2 linked regions of the Homo sapiens genome follow. The protein of the gene in region 1 purifies or fractionates together with the protein of each later gene. This does not show direct contact. Each region holds a gene or a part of one and is shown on either strand. Other genes may lie near its edges. The genes, in order: CYP3A7 and ODR4.

The links.
Region 2: the proteins of CYP3A7 (region 1) and ODR4 purify together in Homo sapiens (affinity purification with mass spectrometry, with the first as the bait; one large-scale study listed by BioGRID). This does not show direct contact.

What each region holds. Positions count from the first base shown.
Region 1 is NC_000007.14:99,732,129-99,736,532, reverse strand, and holds the start of CYP3A7 (cytochrome P450 3A7), read left to right. Parts: upstream 1-1,336; 5' UTR 1,337-1,439; coding exon 1,440-1,510; intron 1,511-4,404. Other genes in the region: CYP3A7-CYP3A51P protein, read left to right, coding at 1,440-1,510. UniProt on the Homo sapiens protein: A cytochrome P450 monooxygenase involved in the metabolism of steroid hormones and vitamins during embryogenesis.
Region 2 is NC_000001.11:186,413,706-186,417,523, reverse strand, and holds part of ODR4 (protein odr-4 homolog), read right to left. Parts: intron 1-3,818. UniProt on the Homo sapiens protein: May play a role in the trafficking of a subset of G-protein coupled receptors.

The sequences.
Region 1 (4,404 bases):
ATAATTTTCACACCCTCATCACTGAGATCTCTCCCATCAGGAATGGGTCACAGGGCTCACAGGTGGCAGCAACTGTTATTACAGGCCTCATCTCTACCAGCTCCTGGCACCTGCTCTCCTCCCATTAGAAAATCCTCCACTTGTCAAAAAGGAAGCCATTTGCTTTGAATTCCAATTCCACCCTCAAGAGGCTGGGACCACCTCATTGGAGTCCTTGATGCTGTGTGACCTGCAGTGACCACTGCCCCATTGTTGCTGGCTGAGGTGGTTTGGGTCAACCTGGCCATCTGGGCAGCTGTTCTCTTCTCTTCTTTCTCCCCTACTGTTTCCAGACATGCAGTATTTCCAGAGAGAAGGGGCCACTCTTTGGCAAAGAACCTGTCTAACTTTCTATCTACGGCAGGACTTTTGAAAGCTACAGAGGAAGAAGCACAAATTGATGCTATTCCACTAAGCCATCAGCTCCATCTCATCCATGCCATGTCTCTTTTTTAGGGGTCCTCTTGCCAACAGAATCACAGAGGACAAATCTGAAAGTGCAGAGACAGCAGCTGAGGCACAGCCAAGAGCTCTGGCTGTATTAATGACCTAAGAAGATGGAGTGGTCACCAGAAAGTCAGAGGAAGTGACACACAGGGGCCCAGCAATCTCAGCCAAGTCAACTCCACCAGCCTTTCTGGTCCCCACTGTGTGTACAGCACCCTGATAGGGACCAGAGCCATGAGAGTGAGTAAGACCAGACTATGCCCTTGAGGAGCTCACCTCTGCTAAGGGAAACAGGCCTGGAAACACACAATGGTGGTAAAGAGGAAAGAAGACAATAGAACTGCATGAAGGGGATGGAAAGTGCCCAGGGGAGGAAATGGTTACTTCTGTGTGAGGGGGTTGGTGAGGAAAGACTCTAAGAGAAGGCTCTGTCTGGCTGGGTATGAAAGGATGTGTAGGAGTCTTCTAGGGGGCACAGGCACACTCCAGGCATAGGTAAAGATCTGTAGGCATGGCTTGTTGGGATGAGTTTCAAGTATTCTGGAATGAGGACAGCCATAGAGACAAGAGGAGAGTTAATAGATTTTATGCCAATGGCTCCACTTGAGTTTGTGATAAGAACCCAGAACCCTTGGACTCCCCAGTAACATTGATTGAGTTGTGTATGATTCTACATAGAATATTAACTCAATGGAGGTCAGTGAGTGGTGTGTGTGTGATTATTTGCCAACTGCCGAGGTGGAGAAGCCTCTTCCGACTGCAGGCAGAGCACGGGGGCCCTGCTACTGGCTGCAGCTCCAGCCCTGCCTCCTTCTCCAGCATATAAACAATCCAACAGCCTCACTGAATCACTGCTGTGCAGGGCAGGAAAGCTCCACACACACAGCCCAGCAAACAGCAGCACGCTGCTGAAAAAAAGACTCAGAGGAGAGAGATAAGGAAGGAAAGTAGTGATGGATCTCATCCCAAACTTGGCCGTGGAAACCTGGCTTCTCCTGGCTGTCAGCCTGATACTCCTCTATCTGTGAGTAACTGTTCAGGCTCCTCTTCTCTGTTTCCTTGGACTTGGGGTGCTAATCAGGCCTCTCTTTCCCTTATCTGTTTTGAATAGCAAAAAGGATGTTCAGGCTGGCCGTGGTGGCTCACACCTGTCATCCCAGAACTTTGGGATGCTGAGCAGGTGGACTGCCTGAGGTCAGGAGTTCAAGACCAGCCTGGCTAATATGGTGAAACCCCATCTCTACTAAAATTACAAAAATTAGCTGGGCATGGTAGTGCATAACTGTAGTCCCAGCTACTTGGGTGGCTGAGGCAGGAGAATTGCTTGAACCTGGGAGGCGGAGGTTGCAGTGAACTGAGATCATGCCACTGCACTCCAGCCTGGGTAACAGAGTGAGATTCCATCTCAAAAAAAAAAAAAGAGAAAAAAAAGAAAAAAAAAGATTTTCAAGGAGAAGTAGCTTAAGTGTTGGATGCTACAAACATATAGAGGTTATGATGGATGTTTTGCAGATCTATAAAGGAATAAATAAGCATCTCCCCCATTCATCTTTAGTGGAAAGAAGGGTTTAGGGACAGCATTGATTGAGGATAATCTAATAGACAATGGTTTGTACCCAGCTTACCAAACCAGAATTTGGATTTTACATTTTTCCCTTTAAGTTGCAGGAGAAGAGGGTGAATCTTCTCACCAGTGAGATCCTGGCATCCTAGAGCAGGTGGAGAGAAGAGTCACTCCCTACTGTGTGTACTGGAGGCTTCCCGCCTGTCACATTTTACTTCTAACTCAATTTCACAGTTATTAAGAGTAAGGAATCATGGTCACATGGAAACAGAAAATACAAACCTCGTTTTAATTCTTTCACAGAAAAGTTAGCAATTCAGTGAGTTGTGGTAACATAGTTTCCATCTACTGGCAATTTAACATGAATTGGTGTGGCTTAAATTCATCCTTTTTAAAGCCAGATTTTTTTGGAGATAGACTATTTCCAGCATGTTCCTTCTGAGTGATAAAAGAGGGCTATTAGTTCAGTATTTGTGACAATAAATGTGTATAAGATAACCTCACCTTTCCAGAATAATGTCAGGAATATGAGTCTAATGTACAAATATATATCTCTAGGACAAGACTGCATATGTCTTTTTAAAAATACTTTCCCAAGAGTTTATTTTAATACCCCCATTTCAAATACACCTGCTTAGCAGGTTATCCTAAACTCTCAGGGCTAGAAAGTAAGCAAGACTGTGAGCCAGTGATGATAGCAAAAGCATCCAGGTAGGATCAAGATGAAGTGAGAAAATATTCCTTACCCCTCAGGGTAGAACTCCAAATAGATATTCATGGGTCCTGGCCCCCTAGTGGAGGTCACTTGAAGGACAAACATGTTGGCATCTCATCTGCTTGAAGCCTGGACACAAGGGCACCATCAGTGTCACTCTGTGTGTGGCTGGCCATGTTGTGGGGCTGTCACTACAGATTCTGGCAGTCAGGCAGACAATACCTTAGCCTTAGACGATGCCGGTACAGCCCAGGATTCAGAAGCTATAGTGTAGACCATGCCCTTCTTAGGCCTATACAATTACATGCAATAGATGATGGATTTTTCTGTTAGCCTCTTCATTGTAACAAAAAGCAGCATTACTCTACCAAACAGAGGGGAGCTGGAAAGAAACTAAACAGTTTGCCAAGCACAGCCTCTGCCTTGACGTGGAATCATGTGAATCTAGACACTCACCTAGATCTTTCCTCGGGGGCCAATGCTGCTCACACATTAACTCAATAGTTTGTCCTGGCCTGAGAGATCATGTAACATGTAGAAAGTTTAGAAGCAGAGATTAGTGCCATTGATTTTCCATGGCTGTGACAACAAAGGAAGGAACAGGAGTGGGAAAACCCAAGGCCACCCTGGTTGTGGTAGATGGTGCACACACTTCCACTAACTATTCTGGGGCAAGGATCCAAATGCACTATTGGGCCTGGCTATGCTGTCTCTGCTGGGTTCTCCAAACACGAGCCTCCATGCTGTTTCTTAGTTGTATTTTACCACATATTATCAGAGTCACTGGATTTGTACAGAATGTTTGGAACCTATACTGCCTTAATGGCTACCCTTTAAAGAAGAGAAAACAAGGTCTTAATTCAACTATCTGGAACATTTTATGGTTACTTATGTGGAATACTCCATCTTTTGCTATCAACAGGAAGGTACCTGGCCATTAGAAGGTGCCTGCCTTTCAGCTGAAAGCACATATGAGGCATATGGATCCATTTATACACACCGTACTTTTGAACCACATTTTCCTAATTTGCCTGTCTGGGGCCAAGCTTGTGGGACTAGCAGATTCATGGTTGAATTGATGGCTGGCTACCTCTTCCATCAACTTTTCTGCTTCATCCAGTCTTCCACCCCTCAGTAACCTCAAACTGGGAAGGTCTTCAGATATCCAGAATCCCCAGTTGGGGAAGTCCATACATGGCCCATCAAAGATGGGTTGCAAGCAGGCCTGCTATAGGGAGCAGCAGCCTTGATGGGTTTTCCTACAGAGACAGTTGATGTGCAGACGCAATAAACTGACTGCTTTGTAATTGATCACCTTGAAAAAAAATGAGCATGTCTGGCTGTATTAGTCTTTTCTTCCATTGCTATAAAAAAAAATCTCAGGGTGGGTAATTTAGAAAGGAAAGAGATTTAATTGGCTCATGGTTCTGCAGGCTCTACAGGAAGCATAGCGACTTCTGCCGCTAGGGTGCCCTCAGGAAATTTACAATCATGGCAGAAGGTGAAAAAGAAGCAGGCAGATCTTACATGACTGGAGCAGAAGCAAGAGAGGGTGGGGAGGAGGTGCCACACACTTATAAACCACCAGATCTCATAAAAACTCATTGTCAAGAGGACAGCACCCAAGGGGGATGGTGTG
Region 2 (3,818 bases), on another chromosome or scaffold:
TAAATTCCACATAAAATAAGGATTAACACATGAAACTGAGCTTTAAAGAACATTATAAAAAACTATACGATCATCACCATTTTCTTTCTACTTGTTTTTTATATAACATACTGAATTTGTTCATTATCAATTGTAGGTGAATTAAATTTAATAGAATATACGTCAAATTAACAGTTTTCAAAACAATGTAGCTTTATCATTGAACTAAACCAGAGGGCCACACAGCCAGTTCTGAATGACTTTCAAAAATTGTGATTTGTTGGCCAGGCATGGTGGCTGACGCCTGTAATCCCAGCACTTTGGGAGGCTGAGGCAGGCAGAGTGCCTGAGCTCAGGAGTTCAAGACCAGCCTGGGCAACACAGTGAAACCCCGTCTCTACTAAAATACAAAAAATTAGACGGGCATGGTGGTGTGCACCTGTAGTCCCAGCTACTTGGGAGGCTGAGGCAGGAGAACTGCTTGAACCCGGGAGACGGAGGTTACAGTGAGCCGAGATTGCACCACTGCACTCCAGCCTGGGTGAAAGAGCGAGACTCTGTCTCAAAAAAAAGTAACAATAATAATAATTTGTTTACTATATAGTAGTAGAGATAAATTTATACCAAAATTCATAGCAGAGTAAACTTCGCTCTTGAGATTAATTTACTTTTTTTTTTTTTTTTTTTTTGAGACAGAATCCTACTCTGTCACCCAGGCTGGAGTGCGGTGGCATGATCTCAGCTCACTGCAACCTCTGCCTCCCAGGTTCAAGTGATTCTCCTGCCTCAACCTCCTGAGTAGCTGGGATTACAGCCGCCTGCCACCACACCTGGCTAATTTTTGCATTTAAATTTAATTTAATTTATTTATTTGAGACAGAGTCTTGCTCTGTTGCCTAGGCTGGAGTGCAATGGCGTGGTCTCAGCTCACTGCAACCTCCACCTTCCAGGTTCAAGCAATTCTCCTGCCTCAGCCTCCCGAGTAGCTGGGACTACAGGGGTGCACCACTATGCCCGACTAACTTTTGTATTTTTAGTAAAGATGGGGTTTTGCCATGTTGGCCAGGCTGGTCCCCAACTCCTGACATCAGGTAATCTGCCCACCTTGGCCTCCCAAAGTGCTGGGATTATAGCCATGAGCCATCACACCTGGCCTAATTTTTGTATTTTTAGTTGAGATGGGATTTCACCATGTTGGCCAGGCTGGTCTCGGACTCCTGACTATAAGTGATCTGCCTGTCTCGGCCTCCCAAAGTGCTGGGATTACAGGTGTGAGCCACCATGCCCAGTCTAATTTATATCATTATTGGTGGTTTTAGCAATTAATAATTTCAAATAATTAGATATTAATAATAAAACCACTGACCAGCACGTTGCAGTACATGGGCCTCTGGCTCATGACCTATTTTTGTAAAAGCTCTTAAACTAAAAATCTGTTTTTCATATTTTTAAAAGACTGTAAAAAAAAAATGTGAAAAAGACCTTATGCGGCTCACAAAGCCTAAAATATTTATTTGTACAAAAAAAAGTTTGCTGACTCTGGATCCAACTTGAAATTGAAACTATGATCAAAAATTTGACCTTGAAACAACTCAGAATGGTAAGCAAGGCAAGGACATCATCGCATTTTACAAATGGAAAACATAACCTGGGAGGTTAAAGTGCATTTCGACCATCACAGGCATTTGACTGATGATTTGGACACAAGTTCTCTTTCTACTTCATTATGCTGACAGCAATTTATGCAGGTTGGCCTATCCGAATTTATTTAATGCTGAATGAAAGTGTGTGAACTGATAGCATCCTCAGAGACCACACAGGCTAATAGTTTTCTGTTTTTTTCCCCTAGGACTGAAGAATCCTATGAAAACAAAGAAAATCTGACAGAAATTCCCAGTGTGTAAAAAAGATGAAAGTATGCTACCCAGGCTGAAGCTGGGAGGGAGGACTCCTGGAGTCAGACCAGCTTCTTTCTTCCATCCTAGAGGTGACATTAGAATGCTACTCTATAGAACTCCAGGGAACTAGATTATGAAAGCAACTACTTTAGATTTATCTGTTTATTTACCCTCACCCCCACAAAAAAGAGAGAGAGAACTCAAGAGAGATAGTAAATATTACTGTTTAAATTTAAAGTAAAATAGCCTATTGTTGAATTTACAATGTTCTTATAGACATCTTTGCACCCCAATATGGGAGCACAAGCTCAAAAGAATGACATATAAACTTACTGAAATAGGTATATATGATACTAAAATGGATGAAAAAGAAAAAAAATTACCTACTTCTCATTAATTTCTCACAAAGAAAAGTTTATGATTTTCATAAACAATTCCTAGTAACTATCTTATTAGAAATAAGGGCACCACTATTCTTTTTTCTTTTTCTTCTTCTAGCATTTAACTAAAATACTTTAAAAACAAAAAACAAAAAAACCCTCCCCCCTTTTTTTTTCTATTCTCATATCAAACCAGTCACAAAGAAAAACAAATTCTTATGAACTGTCTCTAGGAATATCTAGTCTTCTATATTTCCAGTTTGTAGTTTTCTCAAGGGCTATAATACTTCAGTTCTAGACTATATTAGCTCAGTAATTTAAAATTTCTTCCAACTTCAGTCCATAGGTCTAAAAATTGAATGGCTCATACAATTTTACATCAAATAAAAACAAAAACAAACTTCGGCTCTTCTATGAGCAAATATCTCTGTTAAAAAGGTATTTTTTGGCCGGACGTAGTGGCTCACGCTTGTAATCCCAGCACTTTGGGAGGCCGAGGCGGGCAGGTCACGAGGTCAGGAGATCGAGATCATCCTGGCTAACATGGTGAAACCCCGTCTCTACTAAAAATACAAAAAAATTAGCCAGGTATGGTGGCAGGCACCTGTAGTCCCAGCTACTCAGGAGGCTGACGCAGGAGAATGGCGTGAACCCAGGAGGCAGAGCTTGCAGTGAGCCAAGATAGTGCCAGTGCACTCCAGCCTGGGCAACAGAGCAAGACTGTCTCAAAAAAAAAAAAAAAGGTTTTTGTTTTTTTCCCCCATATTTGGGCCAATAAAATCCTTATATCAGATAACAAACAAAAATAATGGATGGTATGAATTATACCTGTTTGCTATAGGAAATTTATTACTTGAATACTTGCATATAAAAAAACAAAATTGTTTTAGTTGTCATAATATATTACTTATATATTTAATATTGAATTATTACATATGAAGATCATGCTCTAGAAGATCGTACTCTGAGCAAATAATTTACTTTCATAAAAGACATTTCATTGCCCTATTTCCATTTTTAAATCTGTCATACAAAATCATGAGGTTTGATACAAATTTGAGATAATTTTACCGAAGCAGAATGTTTTTCAATAATGAATAAGGCCTTATCACAGCAATTTATTTGTCTGTTTATTTTTGGTGGGGGCTTGTAGGATTTTTAAACCAAATCTCAGGCACTGTGTTATTTCACCAATATTTTAATATATTACAAGAAATTTAAATGCAAATAACACAGTGATTCAATAGAACACTAGATCTCAACCATTCCTTAAAACCAAGTCATTTCAAATTCAGACAAATCGAAAACTGATCATGTTAAGAGTATTCTTGAGCAGCTGTCAAAAAGAGAGAGAAAACAAGGGCTGTGAATGCATGCAAAAGTTGCAGACGTGTTCAGATTTCATTCCAAGCTGCTGATAGGTAGGCAGAACTATTTAGAAGCTTAAAATGAAATGTTAAGACTTGAACTCCTTAGTAGCCTGTGTTCTTCCTATCCCTAATTCCTAAATTACTGTATCATTATAGTCAGCGATGTAGCCATAAAATTATATCTTCAGTAT